3 separate regions of the Homo sapiens genome follow, and all the other regions are linked to region 3. The links come from fine-mapping of genetic effects on gene expression. A gene starts in region 3. Each other region holds a variant in brackets. All regions are shown on one strand. Distances are from middle to middle.

Region 1 (5,995 bases), 22 kb after region 3:
TTCATTTACCTTCTTTAACCTGTGGTAACACTTTCTTTCCAGCTCATTTATTTGAAAATCACTGGGCTGCTATTTCCAACTTCCGACTTCTGGCACCCAGTGGTGACCCCTGCCCTCGTGTGCCTCAGTCAGCTGCTCACCAAGGTGCGTTCTCTCCACATGCGGCAGGGGTCGGCCTGCTGCACCACGGGTGGCCGGAGCCACAGCCCCTCGGGGCCTTGTGGAACATGAGTGTGGCTGTTTAAGGGCTGCAGAGACCGAGCACTGCGGTTAGGCCAAAGAGGGCCCATCTAAAAGAGCCCCGGCTCGAGCAGCCCCAGATGTGGGTGGGAGTGGGAGGGCCTGGTTTGGCACCTCAAGGTTACAGATGGTGCTACCCCAGAAAACAACCTTTCAAGTTAGTGGTGAAGTTATCCAGTGTGATGATAAGGGCTTTTGTTCCCTTTTTGGCTTAAAAAGTTCAAGCTGTTCCTTTTTCTTTATTAGGCATGTGATTGGTACATGCTTAGTGCAGTAATCGTACGCTCTGTATGGGTGGAAGGAACTTTATAATCAGTATAGCTCTGGCCAGGCGCGGTGGCTCACGCCTGTAATCCCAGCACTTTCGGAGGCTGAGGCGGGCGGATCACCTGAGGTCGGGAGTTCAAGACCAGTGTGGCCAACATGGCGAAACCCCGTCTCTACTAAAAATACAAAAATTAGCTGGGTGTGGTGCCACATGCCTGTAATCCCAGCTACTCGGGAGACTGAGGCAGGAAAATCACTTGAACCCGGGAGGTGGAGGTTGCAGTGAGCCGAGATTGTGCCATTGCACTCCAGCCTGGGTGGTAAGAGTGAAACTCCGTCTCGGGAAAAAAAAATCACTAAAGCTCTTTATCTTGTTTTCATCTCATTTGATGCTCTCGACACTGCTATAAGGTGCGGGGGTTCCCTCTGTACTTGTGAAGCTCAGTGGGGTGCGTGGTTCATCAGGGAAGCCCGGTGGTCGGCCTAGCATGGCATGACATCGTCCCAGGACAGTAACCCCCCATATGTTCCTTTCCAGTGCCCCATCCTGTCCCTCCAGGACGTGGTGAAGGGCCTGTTCGTGTGCTGCCTGTTCCTGGAGTATGTGGCTTTGTCCCAGAGGTTTATACCTGAGCTTATTAATTTTCTTCTTGGGATTCTTTACATAGCAACTCCAAACAAAGCAAGCCAAGGTGAGTTGATTTGAGGGAGGTTCCTACAAATATGTTATACTTTAGAATTTTTTTAAGTAGTTCATACTCATTGTAGAAAGTTTAGAATATGCGAAAGTAGAGGAAACACACAACCTGCCACCCGCCGCACTGTCTGTCCCTCTGTGTGAGCGTGTGCACGCGCCACATGGGGAAAAGCAGTGCTACCGGTGACCTGTGCTGTCCAGCGTGGTTGCCAGGGGCCAGAGTCTGAACTGAGACGTACCCTACCTGTGACATATGCCCAAGTGGCGAAGACTTAGTGTCAGAAATACTTAAAATATCTTAATTTTTTGTATTATGTGTTAAAATCATAATATTTTGGTATTTGGGGTTAGATAAGGTCTATTGTTAAAATCAATCTTAACTTTTTACTTTTTCTCACGTGACGACAAGGCAGTGTGAAAGTTCTCGTGCAGCTCACACAGGCCGCGCTGCTGTGTCGCTTCTCTTAACGCTCTGAATTCAGGAGCGAGGGCGGCAAGAGCAGTGTTGGGATGAGGAGCAGTCTGCACACTGGCTGCCCTCCTGGGCCCTCACCCCAGCCCCTGTGCTCCTCCCCCTTCCCCTGATGCCAGCCCTGCTCCTGGATGCTTCCTCAGCACTTGCTGCTTCCCTCTGGGGGGTGAGGAGCTGCACAGCCTCTTCCTGAGCTCTTCCATGTCTGTGGACGCCTCTCCCAGCCTGACCAGAGGTTGGACCTCAAGGCTCAGACCCCTGTCCTCTATTTCCAGCTCACCGTGCAGTGCTAAGCGCCTGCATGTCCAGGGGACTGACCTGAGGAGCAGGTGCTGTGGCATCATTCACACCACCAGCAGAGTCCCTTCCAAGAGGGGTCTGGCCCACTCTTCCGGTTCAGTGCTCCCATTCTGCCACCACCTGCCTCCCAAGGCTCCTGTCTGTCAGGCTCGGTGCTGGGCGCCAGAGGGGCGCGGCCGCCCACATGCTCCCTGCCTCCGGGAGAGCCACCTGTAGATAGCTGCAGTCCCACGTGTGAAGGGCTGTGACGGAACAGGCTGGGCACAGGTGGAGTCAAGGAAGGGGTGGGCATCTCGGCTTTGGGGAAGTGTGGGGCGGGGCCTGACCCACGCCTTCCCCTCTCGCTTGGCCCGGCACCTCTGCCCCACTGTACCCACTCTCCACCCCTCCCCGTGTAGCCACACCCTCGGCCTGGATTGCCCTTCTCCGTGGCGAGTGAATTGACTCCTGCGTCCTACAGGCCTTTGCTGACGTCTGCCCCTCAGGCCTCTCCCGCCCTCCACCGTCACCCCCGACTGACTCTCCTGTCTCCCTCCTGCCCCTCCACTTTCCTTTCTCGTGTTCTGTCTGGTCCATTTGCTCCTCTGGGTGCTGTGCACTGCCTGTCTCCCCGACAGGGGCAGGGACTTCAGTCTGTTCCCGGATGTGGCCTGAGCGCCTCATCAGCCCCATGTGTGCCTAGTAGG[C/T]CCCAGGAAGTCTGTGGCCAGCAGGCCTCTCAGGCAGGATCAGGCACTTGGCTCTCACCGCGCCCCCTGCCAAAGCTTTTCCCCTCCCCTGAGGTGTCCCTGCCCACGCTGAAACCCTCAGTGTCTGGCACAACCCAGAAACATAAAAATCGGTGTGCGTCTGTTAGAGGGTGAACTTCCACAGGCTCGGTGCCGCAGAGCCTGCTGGGAGCCCAGTAATGTTCAGGCCATCTCTGTCCTGTCGCACTTGGAATTCAGGTTCCACTCTGGTGCACCCTTTCAGAGCGCTTGGGAAGAACTCGGAACTGCTCGTGGTGTCTGCTAGAGAGGATGTGGCCACGTGGCAGCAGAGCAGCCTCTCCCTCCGCTGGGCGAGTAGACTGAGGGCCCCAACTTCGACAGAGGCCAATCACATCCGGTATGTGAGGGGACCCCGCTTTGGGGCCTGTGCCCTACAGCGTCCCCAGAGGCAGGAGAAGCCACTCGTGCTTTCTGATGTGCTGTTCTTAGTGAACTTGCCGCCCGGCCGTTTGGTTTGATGGAGGCCGAAAGCCTTTCTGAGGCATGTTGGCTTGCTGTCCCTTTTTCTTTTCATTTTCAAAATACATTTGCTTGATTTCACAAATCATAATTTGGAACCAAAAATGGAGCCGCCCCATCCCAGCTGGCGCTGCGGTTCCCACAGCCTCCCCTCCTGCGTTAGGCCTGACCCTGAGCCTGCCTTGCCCGTGGTTGCATGGGCCCAACCCTGGCCGGCCAAGGTGGCCACACTGGAGTTTTCAGCCTAGTGGAAGTGGGGAAGTTCATTTTTGCCACGTTATTGGTTTTGTCAGTGACAAACAGAACAAGTTGGACCTCCTCTTGCCTCCTGCCCTCACAGACTGTCCTGCCTGGCTGTGGGCCTGGCCCTGCTGAAGCGCTGCGTGCTCATGTACGGGTCCCTGCCATCCTTCCACGCCATCATGGGGCCTCTCCAAGCCCTCCTCACGGATCACCTGGCGGACTGCAGCCACCCGCAGGAGCTCCAGGTGAGGCTTCCCGGCCACTAGGGTGCTCTGCCTGGGCTCAGACATGTCCCTGAGCTGGGGCCAAGCTGGTGGCAGTCAGTCATTTGATGCTGCAGCTGTAAGTCAACACCATCTTTGCAAAATCACAAATATGAAGGGAAGTAAAATCATAAGAGTGGGCAGTGACGGTGAGCAGTGCTGGGCTGGAGTAAAGCAGATGCTGCATCTCAGGCGGCAGCTGGGAACTGTCGCCTTGTGTGCTTCCTCCAAGAGGCCGCACGGAGGGTGCACCAGCGCCCAGGGGTCAGCCCCTGCCAGGCCTGGACAGTCAGCTCTGAGCCGCGCTCTGCAGTCCCGATGGGTTTTCCAAGGATGGTCTCACTATCCTGCACAAGGTGACAGGAAGCCCCAAGGGACAGTCTCAGCTGGACCCAAGAACAAGTCTTTGATGGCACATCCTGTCCTCTACAGGCTGCTCCAAATTCACCTATGGCCTACCCGCCTCCCTGCCTTTCACCCTGACCCTGACAGGCTGTACCCTGCATCCACTTCCTGCTTGACATGGCTGTGGCTTGTGCCTTTCATCCTGCCCCAACCCTGCCCCTTATTGGCCCGCACCAGCCCAGGATGCTGCTGGAGCCGAAGGCATCAGTGCCATCTCCGCAGCTACCCCCACAGGACCGTCCCGCACCACCAGCACAGCCCTGGCAGCCTTGCCTCGTGCCTTCCCCTCATGCGCTCCGGCCTCCTCGCAGGCCTGGCTTCGTCTCTGGAGTAGTTCTCTGCACCTAGAACTCCCCACAGCCATGCTGCTCGCGCCCACACCCTTGGGAAGCCAGGCCTTCCCTGGCCCACACTGTGCCGTGCTCCCTGCGTTTTGTCTGTGGTGCTGACCCCCGGGCACGTTACACCGTCCTTGTCTCTGCCCCACTAGGATGAGAGTTCCATGAGGACAGCAACTCGGCTCGTTCCGGCCAGGTCCCTGGAGCATAGAGCAGATAAGCTAGCTATCACAGACTCCGTCGCCTGGTCAAAGGCTGATGAGGATGAGATGTGAGCCCTGCCCCTTATCCTGTATCCACTTCCTGCTGGTGTGGCTGTGGCTTGTGCCTTTTATTTAAAAGAATTTGGGTTGGCCTGGCCGAGGGGCACAGCAGGTCTCATGGTCTCGGTAGACTGGGCCAGTCAGGCCCTTGAGTTTGGTCTCCATGGAGACGAGGCATTCCGGCACTCGAAGGTTACATCCACATGGGCCCAGGAGTGGCTGTATCTGTGGGTGCAGCCAGGGTTCCAGGACACACCTGTGCAGGAGAAAGCGGGTAGGACCAACCTCAGTGAACTACCTTTCGGGAGATTCCTCAGAAGCCACCAGCCAACTCTTCTGGAAGCCAAGGTCTTGGTGAAAATGGGTCTTAACCATCTGGTTCTGTTGGCTTGAAAATAAGGTCAAACTGCCAAGACTGGTGGAAACCCTGCCCCGCCTAGCACCCAGCGTCAGTTTGCACACTGGGCTCTAGCATGCACACGGCCCCCCGCGGCAGAAAGGGGTTCTCCTGTGAGCCTTCTCACGAAGCAAGTGGCTCACGGCCTTTCGTGCCAAGTTTGTCTGGGAAAGAGGGGTTCTGTTGACGTTTCTGGCTGTGAGGAGCACAGGCTATGGTGACCTCCAACTCCCCAAGTCCCCTCCTTTCAGAGAGTGCTCTCAGGGGCCAGCCCACGGCCCTCCCTCTTCAAGAAGACAGTGGCTTTACTTCGTTCCGGCTGTGCCAGGACTTGAGCAGCCACAGCCTTGGCTTACCCCCCCGCCCACCGGTAGGCGCACAGCAAGGGCACCATCCTGCTGCAGGGAGCTCGCAGCACTGTCCTCACGCTGCCTTGACACCACAGAACCCGTGCGTGGAGCTCAGGGCACGCAGCAGGTGAGTCATCGCAGAGTCGGGGATTTCGTGTTTTTCAGGAGCTGTGTCAGAGCACACTGACCGAAATGGAAAGCCAGAAGCAGCTCTGCCGGCCGCTGACCTGTGAGAAGAGCAAGCCTGTCCCACTGAAGCTTTTCACACCCCGGCTGGTCAAAGTGTGGGTGCTGGCAGCATCTCCCTGGGAGGCCAGGGCTGTGGGCTCAGTGGGAGCTGACGGGGGGCGTCTGCCAGTTCTGCAGTTGAGCAGATGACTACGGAGTGAAGCCACACTCCCAAGCAGGCTCTGGCTGAGAGGTGGGGACAGACTCTTGCTTCCTTAACAGTGGCTTTCTGGTTGTAGCCTCGAGTTTGGAAGAAAACAAGGCAGTAGTAAGGAGGAACAGGAAAGGAAGAGGCTGATCCACAAA
Region 2 (7,004 bases), 48 kb before region 3:
TGGGAAGGTGGTATTTGGGCTTCATACAATTGGGATATGCTAGTTGAGGGCCTAGCGGTAAACTTCCCAGAAAAAGGAAAAGACGGAAAGCAGATTGAGGCCAGAGGGAGGAGGCCCACATGAGAAGGGGGCTAGAGAAGGTATCCTCAGCCAGACGTGGTAGCTCACACCTGTAATCCCAACACTTTGGGAAGCTGAGGCAGGTGGATCACTTGAGCCCAGGAGTTCAAGACCAGCCTGAGCAACATAGGGAGATCTCATCTCTCTCTCTTTTTTTTGAAACGGAGTCTCGCTCTGTTGCCCAGGCTGGAGTGCGGTGGTGCAATCTCAGCTCACTGCAACCTCCGCCTCCCAGGTTCAAGTGATTCTCCTGCACCAGCATCCCAAGTAGCTGGGACTACAGGCACGCGCCACCAGGCCCACCTAATTCTTTTTGTATTTTTAGTAGAGACGGGATTTCACCATGTTGGTCAGGCTGGTCTCGAACTCCTGACCTCAGGTGATCCACCCTCCTTGGCCTCCCTAAGTGGTGGGATTACAGGTGTGAGCCACCGCGCCTGGCCAGAGATCTCATCTCTAAAAAATAAGAATAAAAATAAAAAAATTAAAACCTAGTTGGGCATGGTGGTGTGTGCCTGTGGTCCCAGCTGCTTGGGAGGCTGAGGTAGGAGGATCACTTGGGCCTGGAAGGTTGAGGCTGCAGTGACCCAAGATCGTGCCATTGCGCTCCAGCCTGGACAACAGAGCGAAACCCTGTGTCAAAAAAAAAAAAAAAAAAGAGAGAGAGAGAGAGAAGGTATCCTCAAGCACAGCCAAGTCACAGTGTCCCAGGGGCCAGAGAAATTGACTGGAGGCTGAGAGCAAACAGAGATAAGCTCTGGCTGGCTGTGATAAGGGAAAGGAAAGGGCAATTCACCAAGAAACACGGGTAACTAATGGACCTGGAGCCTCTGCAAGCTGGCAGGTGTGAAGAGTGACAGAATGGGAGGCGGGGGACTACAGATTTATAACAAACCAGAAGTTAGAAGCAGTATCACTCCTTCTATGTTTTCTAAGGTTTGAATAAGAAAGAAGAGAGCTGTTACTAAAAACAAAACTGTTACTAAAAAGAGCAAACCCCCACATAAACTCAGAAAACAAGAAATGACTTCCACGGCTTCAGTGAGCGTGAGCTGAGCGGCATGTCGGCTGACAAAAGTGCTATGAATCAAACAATGCACAGTGAAGACTAAGAGGAGACACTTACTACGAATCTACTTTGCACTTTCTCCAGAATTCTTTTCTCATTTAGAGCCATAGCTTCACCTTTCCTCTTCTTTATTCTTTTTTTTTGTAGCTTTTTGCAGGCATACATTTTTCCTGTGGCTCGCACTTGACAGGCGCAAACCTAGTTTAAACAGCAAAATAAAGGAGGTTTATGTCCACCTGGCATTTCTTAGGCCACACAAAGGAAGCTCTTTGCTTGATGAGACCCTCACTGGCAGAGACCAGCAGCAGTGCATGAGGAGCCGAGACCGTTTCAAAGGTGAGCTTCGTCAGTGTGAGTCGGCTCCTCCCTCAGTGATGCACTGTACTCTATCAACTCTAAGACAGTGTACAAATGGAACTAGTTGGCATAGGTGATCACGGTAAATGTTTAATTTTTAAATGTCCCCATATGTGTATTTTACTTTTTGTAAAAGTGCAAAAGTTTTAAAAAGTAAAACTGAAAAGATTCTTTTTCAGCTGGGCATGGTGGCTCATGCCTACAATCCCAGCACTTTGGGAGGCCAAGGCAGGCAGATCACCTGAGGTCAGGAGCTCGAAACCAACCTGGCCAACATGGCGACACCCCGTCTCTACGAAAAATAAAAAAACAAAAAAATTAACTAGGCATGGTGGCGGGTGCCTGTAGCCCCAGCTACTCCAGAGGCTGAGGCAGGAGAATCGCTTAAACCCGGGAGGCAGAGGTTGTAGTAAGCCGAGATCGCGCCACTGCACTCCAGCCTGGGCGACAGAGTGAGACTCCGTCTCAAGATTCTCCTGCCTCAGCCTCCCAAGTAGCTGGGATTACAGGTGCCCGCCACCATGCCTGGCTAATTTTTCTTGTATTTTTAGTAAAGACGGGATTTCACCATTTTGGCCAGGCTGGTCTTGAACTCCTGACCTCAGGTGATCTGCCCACTTTGGCCTTCCAAAGCGCTAGGATTAACAGGTGTGAGCCACCGCGCCTGGCCTAAAAAGATTCTTGATTTTTTAATTTAAAATGTCAAGAGTATAAGGAAATATATTTCATAGAATTCACAATTTTCATATCTTTATTCTATTACTTCTTAAAGTAGTATTTATGTATTATTTTAACTTTATGTCATGAAAAATTTCCAACATACAAAAGTGGAAAAAATAGTATCATGAGCCTCAGGTTCTGGTCCCCGTGCCTCTGTGTCATCAACATTAGGCTGCTGTTTCTTCCAACTCCCATCCACTGCACACCCCACAGGGGACTGCTTTAAAAGCAAACATAAGACATGATTTAATTTTATCTATCAATAAAATAATTTTGGTGGTAAAAGAAATACAAAGTTAATTGTGGAAAATATTGGAAGTAATAAGGACAGTGATAAAAACTCACCCGTAATTCCAAGATAATGACTGTTAATATTTTGCTCTATTTGATTTTGGGCCCACCTTCTTACATGGGTATGCAAGAATACATACCCTGTTCCCACCACTCCAGCCTTTCATGGCAAAACTGGTCTCGTATTGTAAAATAGGTAATATTTCCTAACCTCCTTTTAAAAAATCTTATTGTGTGACTATTTTCCTATCGTGAAATGTTTTCCTAAAATGTGACTATCCCAATATGTATTTAATCATTTTCTTACCATTAAGACTTGGCATAAAAATCTCTTCATATCTCTTTATCGTTAATTTAAAACAAATTATTCTAAGTGGAATGGGCAAATCAGAGAAAGGGAATGGAAAGCAGACAAGAGTGCCAGGCACTGTGCTGAGAGCTGGGTGTGAACACTCGCTGGCTCACAGCAGCCTGGCGGGCAGGGCCGATTATTTCCCTGCTAGAGATGAGATCACGATGGCGGGCCCAAGATCACGCTGCTGGAAGTGATACGACAGGACCCTGACCTCGGGTCTGCCCACGTCTGAAGTACGTGCTCTTTCCACTACAGTCTGTGGCCTAAAACCATGACAGCAGAGATGTCTACTCAATTCCTTTACCATTGTGCTCACTCAGGACCCTACAAATTCATTTCGGAGGACTTCAAGCATAAGCGAAAGAATTACTGTTGACAAAATAAAACCAACTAGGTTTGCTCTCTCAAGCCCACTGGAGGAAGTGCTAGCACTTGGAAAAAGCAAATGCACGATTAGAATCTGGATTAAAGGGCACC[G/A]AGGCTGTCCCCGCATGAGGGCAAGCAGGGCTCCTTCTGACAGGCATTCAGAGTAGGGGTGAGCTGACTGCTCACTGCCTCTGGGCCTTGACTGAGAGTACAACACCTCCAGAGCAAGTCTGTGGGAAACTGCCATGCTTTATTCGTGCAGCCAATCATTTGTTTGGGAACCCAAGTAAATCTGTTAAAAAGTAATCTATACAATCATAATTATACTGAGTCTTTCTTATCTTCTTTTTTAATGTATTTATTTATATTAAATATTTAAATAGAGATGGGGTCTTGCCATGTTGCCTAGGCTGATCTGGAACTTCTGGGCTCAAGCGATCTGCCTACCTTGGCCTCCCGAAGTGCTAGGATTACAGGCGTGAGCCACCGCGCCCAGCACCAGGTCTTTCACAATAGCTAAAATTTGCTAACATGTCCCTATTATATCCTATTAAGACTGACATGTTTTAAAAACTTACATGTGGCTATAATTAGACTTTCATTCCTTTGTAAACACATGACCCATGTTCCAGAAATTTTTCCTCTGTTCTTTCACAAAATCTGAGTCATTACATTTGCAGATCATTAAAGGCAGATTAGCAAGAGTCCAAGTAAGAAAATGACTTTCCTGTTCTAGGACATATTCAAACAGAGGGTGGATTTCTTACAGAAATATCTATCATGGAGGGATTAGAGCAAGCATACGATTGGATTAGGCAAAATATTCTTCATGGTCTCTGGAACTGTACCAGAGGGACAGTACTGTTACTTCTCCTGAAGTAACAACTACGTTGGCCAATTTCTTGTCATGTCAAGCTGCAGGTGCATAACAGATATAGGTGCAGTGTGCTGCCTCCTAGGTCAGCTTTCTAATTAACTTCAAGGCAATGCTAGTGGCTTTTCCTTTGAATTGTAATATGGGAGCAGTAATATCTGAGTCACACCCGGGCAGTGTAACCTGCTCCTGAGTTAAACATACAGTATTAGTTTGCCAATGGCTTGCCTGGCTCTTAGGGACTTAAAAGTTCTTGAACTCCATATGATCACTCCAGGTAACTAGTAAGGTAATTAATATCTCTTTAAATCCCCAGACCAGAACTGCTGCTGTTCTCCATCCACCAACTACAGTGGTCTCCATCTAGGAGACCCATCATATTTAAACAACACCCCGGGCCAGGCACGGTGGCTCACGCCTGTAATCCCAGCACTTTGGGAGGCTGAGGAGGGCGGATCACCCGAGGTCGGGAGTTCAAGACCACCCTGACCAACATGGAGAAACCCCCTCTCTACTAAAAATACGAAAATTAGCTAGGTGTGGTGGCGCATGCCTGTAATACCAGCTACTCGGGAGGCTGAGGCAGGAGAATCGCTTGAACTCAGGAGGCGGAGGTTGTGGTGAGCTGAGATCACGCCATTGCACTCCAGTCTAGGCAACAAGAGCGAAACTCCATCTCAAAACAAAACAAAACAAAACAAAACAAAAAAAACACCCCTCGTGAGTCTGTGAGTCATTTCCTTAGGATTTTCCCAAATTGACACATTTCCAAACACCTTTTGATGTAGGTATGAGGTACATACGTGTCCAAACAGAGTAGGGTTACGTAAGTATATTTACTAATTCACTCTGTACTATGTGAATTTGGGACCAGTCTTAAATGTATGGAAATAGAATCATGGAAATTCCACAATGCGGAAACAGAATCGTCTTTCCATCTGGGCAAAGTGACTGAGCTGGGGCATCAAGCATGGAAACCAGCTTCTTCAGAACTATGAGGTAAAAGGTGAAGTCACCAAGAGAAGGGATTCTTAAAAACCTTTTGCTCAAAATTCCATGTGGATTCTCACAGTTGGCAAAGATTATTCCCAAAACACCCACTAAGGCAACAGTGTACTGGGAGAGCTGATGCATTACCTGAAGCCATGTTCTCAGGACCTTGCTCCCCACCCAGCTAGCAGCGCTGCTATGAACTGGCTCCCGTTACTCACCTCTCCAAATCCGCCTTTTCCTAGAACTCTGTAATGTCTAAATGTGTTCTTTGTTACGGGTTGCCTAATCAATGAGAAAAACAAGTTTCAGGTCTCACATTGCATTGTTCTTTTAAAAAAGAAAAGTTTACTCAGCGCTTGTCTTCGCCTCATTTATTGAACCATTCTGCTCAAAGGGGATGCCCGGGACAAAGGGTGTCTGTGCTCAGGGACTGTGGCTCCCTCTAGCAGGATAGCTCTTGACTTGCTCTAAGAGCAATTAATTCATCTTTTTTTTTTTTTTTTTTTTTGAGATGGAGTCTCACTCTGTCGCCAGGGCTGGAGTGCAGTGGCACGATCTAGGCTCACTGCAACCTCCGCCTCCTGGATTGAGGCAATTTTCCTGCCTCAGCCTCCCGAGTAGCTGGGATTACAGGCGCCTGCCACTATACCCAGCTAATTTTTTGTATTTTTAGTAGAGACGGGTTTTCACCATGTTTACCAGGCTGGTCTCGAACTCCTGACCTCATGATTCACCCGCCTCAGCCTCCCAAAGTGCTGGGATTATAGGCGTGAGCCACCACCCGGCCAATTAATCTTAATTAATATTTAAGACACTGAAGCAAAAGGCAGAACAGTCTAATTATCCTCACTAACTAAAGATAGGTCTGAAACCAGCCAACACTAGGAAATATGTATGTTCATAACTCCTGGTATACTCTTGGGTAGATCCCTCTCAACCTGTCAGAAAGCAGGTGAAGAAGATGACGTATATACGTTGTGCCATCCTTTGAAAAAAGAACCTCAAAGATGTTTATACCCAGCGCCTCAAAAACAGCATGTATAAGCAAGAACTGGAAATTTAATCAATCAATAATAATAGTACTAATAATAACACTAGTAGCAGCTAACACTTTTTTTTTTTTTTTTGAGACAGAGTCTTGCTGTGTTGCCCAGGCTGGAGTGCAGTGGAGCCACCTCAGCTCACTGCAACCTCCACCTCCTGGGTTCAGGCGATTTCTCCTGCCTCAGCCTCCCAAGTAGCTGGGAGTACAGGTGCATGCCACCGTGCCTGGCTAAGTTTTGTAGTTCTAGTAGAGACGGGTTTCACCATTTTGGCCAGGCTGGTCTTGAACTGCTGACCTCAGGTGATCCACCCGCCTCGGCCTCCCAAAGTGCTGGATTACCGGCATGAGCCACTGCGCCCGGCCCACAGCTAACACTTTTTAAGCACTTATTTTGTGCACCAAACATTGTGCTATAAGCGTTGTACACACATTTCCCAGGTGATCCTAGCAATGGTCCAAGGAGGCAGATTCTATAATTACCTGTAATTTATAGAACAAGGACCTGCCACTCATACAAGCTAAGCCACTTACCTGAGGCCACATAAACAGTAAGAGGCTGAGCAGGGTTTAACTGCCAGGTCCCACCCATTGCATCCTATTCTAGCACTAAAAATCTAAGCTAAGTTTTATTTTCTAGCCACTGAACCAACAGGGATACCTGCCATTTTAAAAAGAGAGAACAGAGTCTATTAAATTAGAAGAAATGGTATAACACTAATACCTATGAAAATTTCTGTATAAAAATATCATATACAACTCAAAATTTCTAATTGTATTTTGACAGATGGAAAAGTCTACGTCAATCAGTATGCAT
Region 3 (7,004 bases):
TGTCCCTGGCAGAGTGACACACAAACACTTTCAGTGCAGCATCATCTGCCAACATTCCTGAAAGGAAAAGGCTCTAACAATCTTCTGTTTAGACCATCTTAGTCTGTTCAAGCTGCTCTAACAAAATACTATAAACTGAGTAGCTTATAAATTGCAGAAATGTATTTCTCACAGTTCTGGAAGCTAAAAAGTCCAAGATCAAGACAGATTTGGTGTCTGGTGAGGGCCCACTTTCTGATTCATAGCTGGCATCTTCTTTCTGTGTCCATGGTAGAAGGAGTGAGGGGTGTCTCTCTAGTTTCTTTTATAAAGGCACTAATACCATTCACGAGGGTTCCACTCTCATGACCCAATCACCTCCCAAATGCCCCACCTCCTAATTCCATCCCCTTCGTAGTGAAGATTTCAACATAAGAATTTTGGGGGAACACAAATATTCAGACCATAGCAGGGACCAGAGAGGGAGGGGGGATTGAGACTGACTGATTCTATTTGAAATAAATCCAGGAAATGACCGGACTCACTAATAATATTAAATCAACATTGCGCTTCTCAGGACCAGAATATAACTCTTGTGCTACGTTCATTCATTTCAAAGGTTAATTTTCTAGTATATGAGCCAGTGAAGCTAAACAAGGAGCTGTCCATGAAGTTATGTGTCCAAGAAGACACCTCCTGGTACTTCCTGGGAGATACTTTAAAGTAACAAACACAGTCATCAACTTGGGAAAAAGCCCTAAATTATAACCAATACTCAGCATGTATCCATGTATATCTAATATTATATATTCAACTTCTCTAACCATTAATCAAGCTATACATAATGATGCTTTCTGACCACAGGAGCAAATACTCTCACTCAATGGGGACAGGCCTCATAATCACACTACTGTGGAGTTAATATGAGATATTTCAGGGAAAAAATTAAAACTTTCTTTTTTTTTTTTTTCGAGACGGAGTCTCGCTCTGTCACCCAGGCTGGAGTGCCGTGGCGCGATCTCGGCTCACTGCAAGCTCTGCCTCCAGGGTTCACGCCATTCTCCTGCCTCAGCCTCCCATGTAGCTGGGACTACAGGCGCCCGCCACCACGCCCGGCTAATTTTTGTATTTTTAGTAGAGACGGGGTTTCACCATGTTAGCCAGGATGGTCTCAATCTCCTGACCTTGTGATCCGCCCGCCTCGGCCTCCAAAAGTGCTGGGATTACAGCTGTGAGCCACCGTGCCCGGCCAAAACTTTCATTTTTCAAACTATCACTGTGGTCTTAGGTTTTGTGACAGAATCTGGTTTTATGTTATTTAGCATTTATAGAGCACTTGTATTTATCTCATTATCTAATCTCTGCAGCATTATAAGGAAGGCGGCTTGGTATAGTTCCTTTTTGTAAATTACATGCAGATAGGAAGGTAGTGTAAAAAGAAAACTGGCTTAGCTTCAATCTGACTTCCACTAAGGATGATTATTTTCCATGACCTATTTGGAGTTCACAGTCAGGGATAAGAGGCACAGTCAAATGCTCCACTGAAAATGGCTGCTGAGAACGCATACTGCTCTGGGACTCCCTGATTATCTTAAGGGAAAAAGATCCCATTCTCTTCCCACCCATTCTCAGTTCTTCTATTCAAAATAGTGTGAGTTGGTGCACAAAAATACTGAGAAGATGAAGTCTTTGTTTTAGACTTTTTTAAAGAGATGGTCTTGCTGTGTTTTGCCCAGGCTGGACTCTCCTGGGCCCAAGTGAGCCTTCCACCTCAGCTTCCAGAGTAGCTGGGACTACAAGCGTGGCCGCCACCTTCGGCTCCAGACTGTCCTTTAAATATGCATCGCCGGCTGCTGTGGCATCTTCAGTCGGCATTTACACTGTCCTGGAGCACAGTCCGAGCAGAGCTGCTCCATCACGCAAGGAAATAGAGGAAATCAGCAATTCCGTAAGAGTGACGGGGTGTGAAGAACTACCGTGGCTAGCACAGGGACTTGAGGTCCGAGGCTCTGTCGCCAGCTCTCTTGAGACGCAGGCAAGGGAGACATGAGGTCCGAGACAGAGGATTGCACAGAGGATTGTGGGGGTCTCCCGCTGAAGGGCTGGACCAACTGATGCTTTTGTGGCGGGATGCAGAGGACTAGAGAGACCAGCATGGGTGAAAACAGGAGGATATTTATGTTAAGGTACGCACCAGCTCAGTGGATTCACATCCAAAAAGCTGAGCCTTGAACAAAGACTAAGCAGGATTTTTATAAGCAAACTTACAGAAGCAAAACAAAGGCAGTTAATCATATAATGACAGGTCACATAATCTATAGCATAACTGATGACTTGGCATAACTTGTGGCCTTGCATAGCTGGTGGCCTTGTAGCTGCGTTGAAAGAAAAAACCAAGAACTGGCTAAACACAGATATTTGTCCTCTTTTTTTTTTTTCTTCACCCCTGCTCTGGAAGGGGGGTGTCTGGAGCCTATTCCTTTGGATTCGACTTCTCAAACAGAACAGCGTTATCTTATAACTGTCCTTAAAGTGAGCTTGCTAAGCAAAAGAAAACTTGTTCTTCTTTTCTTTTTAACCCTTGCCTTGCCACATTCTGGGCCTTGGCTTTTTCTTTTCTTGGAGTGAATGAATGCAGTACTTATTACTATTTTTAAATTTCTGCCTCACTTTAATAATGATAAAAGGCTGAATTTTTGCCAACTTGTCCATCTGTGACCACGTCGTGCTAAAGCACACTTGACACACCATAGAGCCTCAGATCAAACCTCAAAACCAAGCAGCTATGTTAAAAATAACATTGCCCTACAATCATTATCGGAAGGTTCTCGCCCAGAGTAGTTCCCAGGCTGCTATTCTTTGTCCCCCTTAAGACCATAAAGACGCCGTTCTTTTTTGGTGGGACAGGTTGTCCAACACAAGCAGGACACTGCCTGCCGCATCCTGAAGCAACACTGTCACCGAGGTCACACCGAGAGGACAGGACAAGGACACAGGGCAAGACTAAGAAGAGCAAAGCGCAGACTTCTCTCATCTGGGCCAGGAGATGGGGACTGGGACCTGGCCCGGGCAGCCTGACCACACTGCACAGACCCCGGCTCCGGCTCCGTGCAGATCTGGGTTCCCCCAGTGGGAGGTGTCGGGGCTCTCCAGGGAAATCGGGGTTCTCCGGGGATGTCGGGTTCCTTCAGGGGGGCCAGGGTTCCCCGGGATTCGGGGTTCTCTGGGGGGGGGGTCGGGGGCGCCTGCCGCGCACCCACCTTGACGCGCTTTCAGCAGCAGCGAGTTGGCCACGATGTTCTCGAGCTCCATGTCCTGGCGCCGCCGCCGCCGGCGGATTCTGCGAGACCGAGGAGACTGAGGAGGCGGAACAGGAGGAGACGCCGCCGCCCCCGTGCATAGCTCGCCGGGCACCACCCTCTCCTCGAGCTCCGGACACGATCCCGGGAGGCTGCTCCGCCGCCACCACTGCCACCAAGGGCGCCGCCGCCGCCGCCTCCGCAGGCCCTCACCAGCAGGGGAGCGGTCGGGGCGAGGGGAGGGGGCAGCCCGACCGCGGCGGGTCCCAGCTGTCACCGCTGCCGCGCTATCGCCCCGGTTCTTCTTGGCCCCATCGCCCTCGCCTCGCGCGCGCAACTCCCTCCTCAGTGCCCTGCCCCCGGGCAGCCCCGAGTCAATGCCGTGGCTCACTTCGGACAGGGGCTCACTGGCAGGGGCGCCCGCCGCGGCCGGCGACCCGCTCCCGGGCGGGCTCGGCGCTAACGGCTTAGCTGAAGAGGGAGCGCCCCTCGCCGCCGCGGCCGGGGCACTACAGCTCCCAGAAGGCCCTGCGCCAAGAGTACACGGCGGGCCGCGGCGCGTGGCCTGCTGGGAGTTGTAGTCGCTGAGCCTATCGGCGAGTAAGCCGAGCCTGCGGGCGCGGTGTTTACTTCTCGCGAGTCGGAGGTGCTGCGCTGTTCTCGCGAGACGAGGAAGCGGTTCCGCGGCCCGGCACGTGTCTTAGGGTAGCGCGCGCCTGTCTCTCTTCGGGTCTCGGGCCCTTGGGCGCAGCGGGGCGCGCGCCATGGCGAAGGCGAAGAAGGTCGGGGCGCGAAGGAAGGCCTCCGGGGCGCCGGCGGGAGCGCGAGGGGGCCCGGCGAAGGCCAACTCCAATCCGTTCGAGGTGAAAGTTAACAGGCAGAAGTTCCAGATCCTGGGCCGGAAGACGCGCCACGACGTGGGACTGCCCGGGGTGTCTCGCGCACGGGCCCTCAGGAAGGTAAGCGGGGGGCGCACGGGGAGCCGGAAGGCAGGATCTGGACCCCACGCTGCTCTCGGCCGGCTGCGTCCTTCTCGGTGCGTCGGTTTCCTCGTTGAGCGGCACAGGCCGTGACAGGCACACGGCACTGACTTGATAGTCCGAAAGCCTCTGCTGTTCTCTGAGCTGGAGTGACCTGGAAACTCTCGCCGTCTTGGAGACCCTGCACTCGTGTTATTTCGGCGACTCCTCCAACCGGGTCAGGCCGAGTCAGTCACTTCGGGCGGCGCCCTGGACCAAGCTGCTTGTTAACCCTTCCGCGTTTACTTTGAGCTCTGCAGGTTTGGGGACGGTGGATAGGGGCTGTGTAGGATGCTGCGTTTGATGTTTCATCGGCTCTCTCCCGAAGCGCGTAACCTTGTTCCTTGGGAAGTAACTCTATGGAAACTCATTGCTTCCTAGTTTTTTTAACTTTTTTTTTTTTAAATTTTCACTGAGGAACATACATTAGCAGGTTGGTGAAAAAATTAAGGCACAGAAAGGACAAGTGCATTTCCTAAGGTCACGCACCTGGTAAGGGCTGGGCATGCATTCACATTTCAATATCTACAAAGCCTTCTTGCTACCCCGAGCGCTTCTGTTTGACCTCGCTTCTAGGTTCGGGGAGATAAAGGTAAATAAGACTTGCCCTTGCCTTCATGAGCTCCTGATCTCTGTTCATCACAGTGTGCAAGCTGGATGGTCTTTGAATCAAAACACATATTATCCTTACTGCGCGAAGACGACAGCCTGTATAATGAATAGGCAAGATAGACTTACAGCTGACTTCGATAGGAGTCCCTCATTACACACCCCCGGGCCGGGGTGGGAGAATAAGGTAGTGTGGTTCCCTAGAAGAGACACATTTGTCTTCACCACTGAAGCCTCAGTTTTCTCATTTCAAAAGTAGAGATGATAGTATACATCCTACCCCTCGTGGTGGTTTGTGAGAATTAAGTAAGATAGCACATAGAGCACACAGCAAGTGTTCTCTAAATACTGTTATTCTTAACCTTCTTGGCTTGTCGTTCGAGTCCCGCACAGTCTGGCTGTTGTCCTTGCTTCGCCTCTTGCAACTCAGTTTGTCCAAAAGGTCTGCCTTACCTCCGAAAGTCTCTAAAGGGCCAGCTCAGGTTCACCACCCAAGCTATGTAACCCAAATAGGACAGGTTGCTCAAACTTCTGGTATTGAGCAGATCCACCTCCCTGCCCTGTGCTGAAGGCCTGGGACGGGGACGGGAATTGCTGCTCCTTTTTGGATCTCCAATGCTTGGCCCTTGGAAGAAACACAAATATTTGAAGAAATCAAAGATGGAACCTGAGTGCCTTAGGAGATCCCGGTCAGGAAAAAGTGTAATAGTTAGGAAAGTCCAAAAATTCTTCTAGAGGGAGTTACAGTCAAGTTTTGCAAGGGGAGTGAGCTGTTCATGGGCCCAGGGTGGGCAGAGGACACACATGCAAAGGCACATTGTCCCGGTATGGTGAAGTGTGGCACTCACAGCTGTCTGAGGGACAGCAGGTCGTCCAGTTGACTCCAAGCTTGATAACGCGTGTAGGGGCCGTGAGGCCGGCGCAGGAGGCCTGGGTCTTTTCATGTGGGTTAGTCCCTTAGAAGTAAACAGGCTGCCTCAGTTGGCTTCTCCCCTCTGGTCAGTTGTAGCACTCTGAGGCACTCAGTCTGGCAGGAAGAGGGCAGCCCCCAGGTGCCAGTCTCAGGACATTGCTTTATAGCTGTGCCTCAGTTTCCTTATTTCTGAAATAATTTATAAAATAAGTTATATTAATGTAGTTCTTAAATCAGTAACTATATTAATATAGTTACTATATATTAATATACTAACTATATTATTAATATAGTTACTATATATTAATATACTAACAATATTAATATATTAATATATTATTATAATATTAGCATATTAATATATTATTGTAATAGCATATTAATATATTATTATATTAGTATATTAATATATTATTATAATATTAATATATTATTAAAATATTAATATATTATTATAATATTAATATAGTATTAATATAATATTGATGTAGTATTAATATAATATTGATATAATATTAATATAATAATATTGATATAATATTAAAATAATATCGATATAATATTAATATAATATTGATATAATATTAATATAATAATATTGATATAATATTAAAATAATATCGATATAATATTAATATAATATTGATATAATAATATAATAATAATGTAATTATAATATTAATATATTGATAATGTGATTATAATATTAATATATTGATAATGTGATTATAATATTAATATATTAATATTAATGTGATTATAATATTAATATATTAATATTAATGTGATTATAATATTAATATATTAATATTAATGTGATTATAATATTAATATATTAATATTAATGTGATTATAATATTAATATAATATTAATATAATAATATATAGTAACTATATTAATAATATAGTTACTGGTCCCTTACAGTTGGTCAGGCCTTGTGCCACACGGTTTACATTTAATCCTCACCGTTATGAGGGGGAAGTACTGTTATCCCCATTTTATGCCGTAAATTCCATATGATGTCACAACATCTATATAGTTTAAGAAAGAAAGAGAATCACAATAATGTAGAATAACTCATATTACGTATTTATAGCCTAAGGGCTGTTCTTCACTAAGATTTACCCATAGAATCATATTCCAGATAATGAGAACTAATATTTTTAGAGGCAGAGATGGCTGAT

Alleles and levels. Positions count from the first base shown, and alleles are read on the strand shown. Sizes are in standard deviations (SD) of each study's normalised expression. Not every link is listed here.
As copies of G replace A in region 2, the expression in cerebral cortex of the gene that starts at base 3,956 in region 3 goes down (large effect, 0.91 SD a copy in GTEx).

Evidence for each region. PIP is the estimated chance that this variant, and not a neighbour inherited with it, causes the effect.
Region 1: its variant is fine-mapped to the expression of NOP14 in whole blood (TOPMed, PIP above 0.99).
Region 2: its variant is fine-mapped to the expression of NOP14 in cerebral cortex (GTEx, PIP above 0.99). The same link has a PIP of 0.9 or more in cerebellum.

The regions. Positions count from the first base shown.
Region 1 is chr4:2,939,277-2,945,271 of GRCh38, reverse strand. It overlaps NOP14 (NOP14 nucleolar protein), which reads left to right. Exons shown (of 18, transcript NM_001291978.2): 12 at 43-144; 13 at 1,046-1,199; 14 at 2,921-3,080; 15 at 3,543-3,690; 16 at 5,627-5,745; 17 at 5,929-5,995. The region is part of intron 2 of NOP14-AS1 (NOP14 antisense RNA 1); the gene reads right to left. Among named protein-coding and RNA genes, the nearest start is that of NOP14-AS1, 6.7 kb to the right of the region's middle. The variant C/T (reference allele first, on the strand shown) is at 2,663.
Region 2 is chr4:3,008,071-3,015,074 of GRCh38, reverse strand. It overlaps GRK4 (G protein-coupled receptor kinase 4), which reads right to left. Exons shown (of 16, transcript NM_182982.3): 7 at 5,364-5,427; 8 at 1,247-1,387. Among named protein-coding and RNA genes, the nearest start is that of GRK4, 48 kb to the right of the region's middle. RefSeq lists enhancers at 1,298-1,357, 4,443-5,642. The variant G/A (reference allele first, on the strand shown) is at 3,390.
Region 3 is chr4:2,960,358-2,967,361 of GRCh38, reverse strand. NOP14 (NOP14 nucleolar protein) reads left to right here and starts at 3,956. Exons shown (of 18, transcript NM_001291978.2): 1 at 3,956-4,237. The coding sequence starts at 4,043. GRK4 (G protein-coupled receptor kinase 4) reads right to left here and starts at 3,791. Exons shown (of 16, transcript NM_182982.3): 1 at 3,240-3,791. The coding sequence starts at 3,291. RefSeq lists silencers at 3,119-3,168, 3,339-3,768 and enhancers at 3,231-3,764, 3,765-4,298, 5,329-5,398.